Regions from separate parts of the Homo sapiens genome. Here region 2 is linked to region 1. The links come from fine-mapping of genetic effects on gene expression. A gene starts in region 1. The other region holds a variant in brackets. All regions are shown on one strand. Distances are between the middles of the regions.

Evidence for each region. PIP is the estimated chance that this variant, and not a neighbour inherited with it, causes the effect. A credible set is the group of variants that fine-mapping cannot tell apart.
Region 2: its variant is the best candidate, but not a certain one, in a credible set for the expression of WNT4 in nasal epithelium (TOPMed, PIP 0.88).

The regions. Positions count from the first base shown.
Region 1 is chr1:22,141,790-22,144,631 of GRCh38, reverse strand. It overlaps WNT4 (Wnt family member 4), which reads left to right and starts at 1,535. Exons shown (of 5, transcript NM_030761.5): 1 at 1,535-1,786. The coding sequence starts at 1,710. All of the region lies in intron 1 of LOC105376845 (a long non-coding RNA gene), which reads right to left. RefSeq lists silencers at 1,116-1,445, 2,008-2,067.
Region 2 is chr1:22,251,877-22,254,771 of GRCh38, reverse strand. It overlaps LOC107985377 (a long non-coding RNA gene), which reads right to left and starts at 2,207. Exons shown (of 5, transcript XR_001737789.1): 1 at 2,098-2,207; 2 at 1,839-1,943. RefSeq lists enhancers at 1-154, 155-1,059. The variant A/C (reference allele first, on the strand shown) is at 1,467.

The sequences.
Region 1 (2,842 bases):
TTTTGCATTTTGTTAGCTTGATTTATAGCCTGCAAATATTTGGACATATGGTATGTGAACCTCCATCTATACTCTTGCCCAGCCCCACAAATCCCTGCCACGTTCCACCCAGTCCCAATACCAAATGTTTACTGAGCCCTTCCTCTGTTCTGAGCCCAGGGGACCCCAGGGCACCATCCCAGCACCCAAACATGATGGCCTCTGTGGGAGCAAACTTCATACTCCAAAATCAGTGAAGAACTAAGATCAGGGGGTGAGGGCATAGACCTGGTCCTTGCCTCTGTTCCCAACCCCTAGGGAGGTGGGACAGGTGCCTCCCTTTCCGGGCCTTAGTTTTACTGTTTAGATAAGAGGTCCCTCTACCTGTGAGCAGCTGGGGGATGCAGCCTGGAGGATGAGTAGCACACAGAATCAGATCAGTGACCTGAGAGGGTGTGGCGTGGACTTGGGCAGACAATTCTTAGGGGTTACAGTGATGTGGAATTGAGCTCTCTGGACTAGCCAAGCACAGGCTGTTGCAGCCCATTCCATTCCATTCATTTATTCCTTCCACAAACATGGCAGGCACCGCCCTGTGCCCAAAACAAACAAGAGGCTGAATCTGCCTAGTATGGGAGGATAAATCGAACAAGCACATAGAAAACCAAATGCAAAGTAAGACTTGGTGAGTGAGCCAAGAGAGCTTCCCTAAACTCCTCCTGTCCTCCCAATCACAGCGTCTTAAGCCCACTTCCCGGATGAGAAAACGGAGGCTCAGAGTCAAGACCCTGCTGCCTGGGGCGCGCCCAGACCTTGTGGCTAGCCAGAAGCGAGGTTTCGGATTCCCACAGTCTCGGGCCACTGTCCCAAGCTGCCCAAAGCTGGGGAGGCCCCGTCCAGCTCCCGGAAGGCTGTAGGGAGGTGAGCGCCAGGGAGGGGCTGGGCCGCAGGACGCGGGGGCCAGGAGGCAGGGAGGGGCCGGGCGGGGGGCGGTCGGGAGACATCCAGCGCCCCGATGTGCAGCCCCAGGCACCCGGAGCGCCAGCGCCTGGGTGCGCGCGAGTGGTAGCCGCGCTCCGGTGGGTCCGCCGCGGTCGGACCGGGGTCTGGGCTCCAGGCGCCGGCGGGGGGCGGTGGGGGGGGTAGGGGGACAGCGAGGGCCGCGCTGCAGTGCCCGCAGCGGCGGGTTGGGGGAGCTGTGCCCGCCTGTCCCCTAGGCCCGGGCGGCGGCCGGGCAGCTGGGTCGCCGCGCCTCTAGCCGGGCCGGGCTCGGCGGCGCGCAGCCAGGCGTGCCTGGAGCGGGCTCGGGCCCCAAGTCCTCCGGAGCGCCCAGCCGGGGAGGCCCCGGGAGCAGCCCAGTCCCGCGGGCTAAGGCGGCAGCCGCCGCCGCTCCGGCCCGCCCCCGGGGGGGTGTCCCGGGCCGCTGGGCCCGCCCAGGTAACCCCATCCTCGGCCCGCCCCCGGCCCGCCCCCCCGGCCGCCCGCCCGCCCGCCCGCCTCCGCCGCCGCCGCCGCCGCCGCCGCCGCCGCATCCCGGCTCTGGGGCGGCGCTGACAGTCTGGTCCGCGCCGGGCAGCGGGCGCAGCAGCGGGCAGGCTGCCGGCAGGCACACGGAGGCAGAGCCCCGCCGCGCGCGCCCCGGCCCGCCCGCGGGCGCCCACCTGCAGCCCCGACGGGAGGCCCCCCGCGGCCGCAGCCGCTGCCCCGGGCCGGGCGCCCGCGGCGGCACCATGAGTCCCCGCTCGTGCCTGCGTTCGCTGCGCCTCCTCGTCTTCGCCGTCTTCTCAGCCGCCGCGAGCAACTGGCTGTAAGTCTGGCCGGGGCCGAGCGGGGCGGGGCGGGGCGGGGCAGGCCCCGGGGGCAGCGGCCGGTGCCAGGCGGCGCGGGGCAGCGGGCGCGGGGCAGCCCGGCAGGTGTCTCGGCCGCGGGACCGGAGGCTCGCTCGCTCCGCTGCCGCCGCCACGGCCCGAACGTCCCTCTGCACACCCGGGGTCCCCTCCTGCCCGGGTCCGGCTCCCTGCCCAGAGGCGTCAGGGGTGGCTGTGGCGGCGTCCGCACCGGTAGGCGGCTCGGGGCTCTCGAGGGCGCCAGGGGTGCGAGCGCGGGGCGGTGGCCCGGGAGGGGCGCCGGACGCGGGTTGCAGTCCAGCCGGGCTGACAGGTCGCTGAGGAAGCCCATTGCAGGGAAGGGCTCCGGGACATAATAGCAGGTTAATCCCGAGAAGTCCGGAGCGAGCTCCCAGCGCCGAGCTGCGCCGAGCTGCGCCGCGCTGCGGGCTGGGCTGGAGGCGTGCAGGGACCTGTTTCTGCTTGGGGGGCGGGAGCCGGAGACAGAAGGAAGGGACCAGGACGCCTGGTCTCCCAGGGCCCGGGGCTGGCGCTGGCGCTGGCCGGGCCTTGGTTTTTCCCCGGGGCAGGAAGAAACTCCGTCCAGACCTTAAAGAAGACAACGGCCCCCCAGCTCCCCGTGTCTAGCCTAAGGAGGAAGGGGTGGTAACCGCTGGTGACCTGTCTGTTTCTCCTTGACTGGATCTGCGCTCAGGGCGCTCCCTGGGTAGGGGCGGAAGGTTTGCTGCAGGGAGGGAGACTAAAGGGATGAGCTCCAGTGAGTGGGTGGACAGGGAGCAAGCGGACCCGCGCTCCTTTCATCCCCGCTCAGGGACAGTTCCCCATGCCCCGCGCTTAACCCTGGCCCCAGTTCCTCCTGCCCAGAGCTCTGCCACCATCCGCTGTGGGCAGCCAGTGGGGAGCCAAGCTCCAATATTGATCTGAAAAGCATGGGGTGGGAAGGGGGATCGCCAACAGTGTAGCTGGGGTTTCCATGGAGACAGGGAGAGAGGAAAAAATTCTCTCTGCATCAAGAC
Region 2 (2,895 bases), 110 kb before region 1:
CTCCACCTCCCCACAGAAGCCAGTTCTCCTTCTGAAACCCAAATCTGTGCCCGTCCCACCCACTACCCTTGACCCTCTAACCCCTTCCCATTCCCTTCAGGAGCAAACCAGGCTCCCCAGGCTGGTGGGCTGGACCCCCACAATCTAGCCCTGCCTGCTTCTCCATGGCTGCTCCCCCAAAACACAGACATATCCCCTTTCCCTTTCGCAGAGTCCCCTACTTTTCTAAAAGTGGCTGCAACTCAGGATTCTTTCTGTCCAAGCACCCTCCACCCCTCAGCCTGACCCAATGCTTACTTAGCCCATAGCAAGTGCTCTTCAAGGGCTATTTGTATCGGAAACACTGACCTGGGAGAGCTGAATTCTGGTCCCAACCTGCTCCCACTCATTTGTTCAGACATGTCCCCTCCCTGCCCCTAAGGCTTGGGGTCCCCATTTGTACAAGGAAGGGCATGAGCTGGGAGCCCACCAGCTTGGAAAAATGCAAGTGTCTCCTCTCTCTCTGCTTGCCTGTCTCTCTCTTTCTGTCTCTTTCTCTCTCTCTCTCTCTCTCTCTCTCTCTCACACACACACACACACACACACACACACACACACACACACACACACACTGCCCATGCCAGCCTCTCCCCGGGACATCGGGCTTCTCCGTGGATTGAATTACCAACATTTCATCGGTGGGAGGAGGGGAGGTGGGGCAGGGGAAGGAGCTGTGAATTCCGCGCACTGAGCCTGTCCCCGCAAGGCCTGGACCAAATGCCACAGCGTGTCTGTGCCCATCTGCCTCTGGGCGGGGTATGGGTGGGGGTGGAGGTGCAGGCAGGGAGGGGCTCCCTAAAACTAGAATGCCAAAGAAAAGACACCGAGGGATCACACAGACTCACACACACTCTTTCCCACGGCCACTACTGCACATGCATGCATTCACGCATGTGCACGTGCTTAAACACACATGCATCTCCTCCACACACAGTCTCTCACATATGCGATCGTCCTTTTTATTTATTCAACAAATACCCATTGAGCCAGTTTGCCATGACAGCCTTGCTCTCCATCTCTCTTTTGTGAAACAGGCCCCCACATTTGGTCACACCCGCACACACACCCACGCCCTCAGTCGCTCACACAAACTCACACATCCCAAGGCTGGAGCTGCAGCCTCCTTCCAGAGCCCCGGGAGGGCCCTTGCAATGTGTTCACACGATGGTCAAAGCCAAAAAGAGAAATAAAAATCAGTAGTACAGGAATGTGCCAGGGAGTTAATTAATAAAAATATTATGATTTTTTTCTGGATTTGGTAATGTTTGTGGTATTTGTCAGCTTAAAAATTGAGTAATTCGTTGTGGTTTCTTTTCTCGTTTTAAAGTCTCTTTAGTATTTGTCATTTTGCATTCCTTTTAATAAAGAAAGTCCCCAAATTGAAGACATCTTGGCCCTTACCAAGCCTCACCCGCCTCTGCAAACAT[A/C]CAAATATTCAAACAATCACACCCACCCTGTCTCACACTCACACTGTTGCACATGAGTTCACACTCCCACACATTCTTATAAATCAAAGACTCGTCACACATGACCCAGTGTGCACGAGGCTCACCTACCTGCCCGCTGCAGACAGGCAGCCCACCCAGGGCACCCCCGGCCAGGCCCGACCTCAGGGCAGACCAGACCCCATCTCTCCAGCCTCCCAGGCTCCTGGCCTCTGACTGCAGACACTTGGCACTCCCTTGCCTACGGCCAGCTCCCAAAAGCCCCACAGCTGCTTGCCACAGACGCCGACCACTCACCCTCCCGCTCCAACCCTGGAACTGGACCATAAGCCACACACCCTGATTCTTTCTCACCTTGGACCCTCGGATGCTCCATGCCCAATGCCGCCTCAGCAGGTAACCACTGAAACCCACAGAATGTTCTGGAGTTTCCTTGGAGACCTTGTTGCCCATAGGTGGCTGGTATGGAAAAGAGGATATAAGAATTGGAATTGTACAGCCTTTCCTGGGTTCAAATCCTGACTCTAACGCCTGCTCTGTGCTCATGGGCAAGTGAGCACACCTCACTGAGCCTCAGTTTCCCCATCTGTAAAATGAGGGGCAATCATCTTACCTTAGAGGCATGTTGGGAGGATTAACTGAGCAAACACAAGCAAAGCACAGAGCGAGAGCCCAGTGCACAGTAGCGGTCATTACCACTTTTCTTCTCCACGACAGCAGGAAGGTGAGGTTGGAGCCCCGTCCCCTCGGGACTGGCCCCTCCTCCAGCCCCCAGCCCAGTCCAGCCCCCTTTCCCTGTTGCCTCAGCCACATCGCCCTCTCGGCCACCCGAGTGTTAGGATCCCAGCGCACCTGCTTCCAAGGGCTCTAATTTCCTGTAAGTGTAAGAATTCAGGTCAGACACGGCCCGCGGCCTGCAGCCCCCCTCCCGGCGGAAACCATAAATAACCCAGCTCCGCCAGCCTGGCCCAGGCACGAGACTTTCCCTCCTTACCCACTGTGCCAGGCAGGTACAGCGATTTCCATTCACACACAGGGAAACTGAGGCCGTAGAGAGGAATCTGAGTTTGAGATCCTGACCAGTGCACTAGAAAAAACTTCCATCAAAATATGCCCTTCCCACGCCCCCTGCCAAACAAATACCTCTCCTCTAATTCCCAACTGGCCAGTGACTTACACCTGAAATCTGCCCATTAGTGTGGGGGAGCCAACAACCTTTTCCTCTAAGGGCCAGAGAGAAAATATTTTAGCACTTGAGGGCCAGACAGTCTCTGTTGCAAGTACTCCACTTTGCTGATGTAGCCATAGACAGTGCAGAGACATTATTTTTTTCACAAATGCAGGCGCCCAGCTGGATTCGGCCATGGCTTGCCCACCTCTATGCTGTACCTCAAGCCCCTCCACCACACTG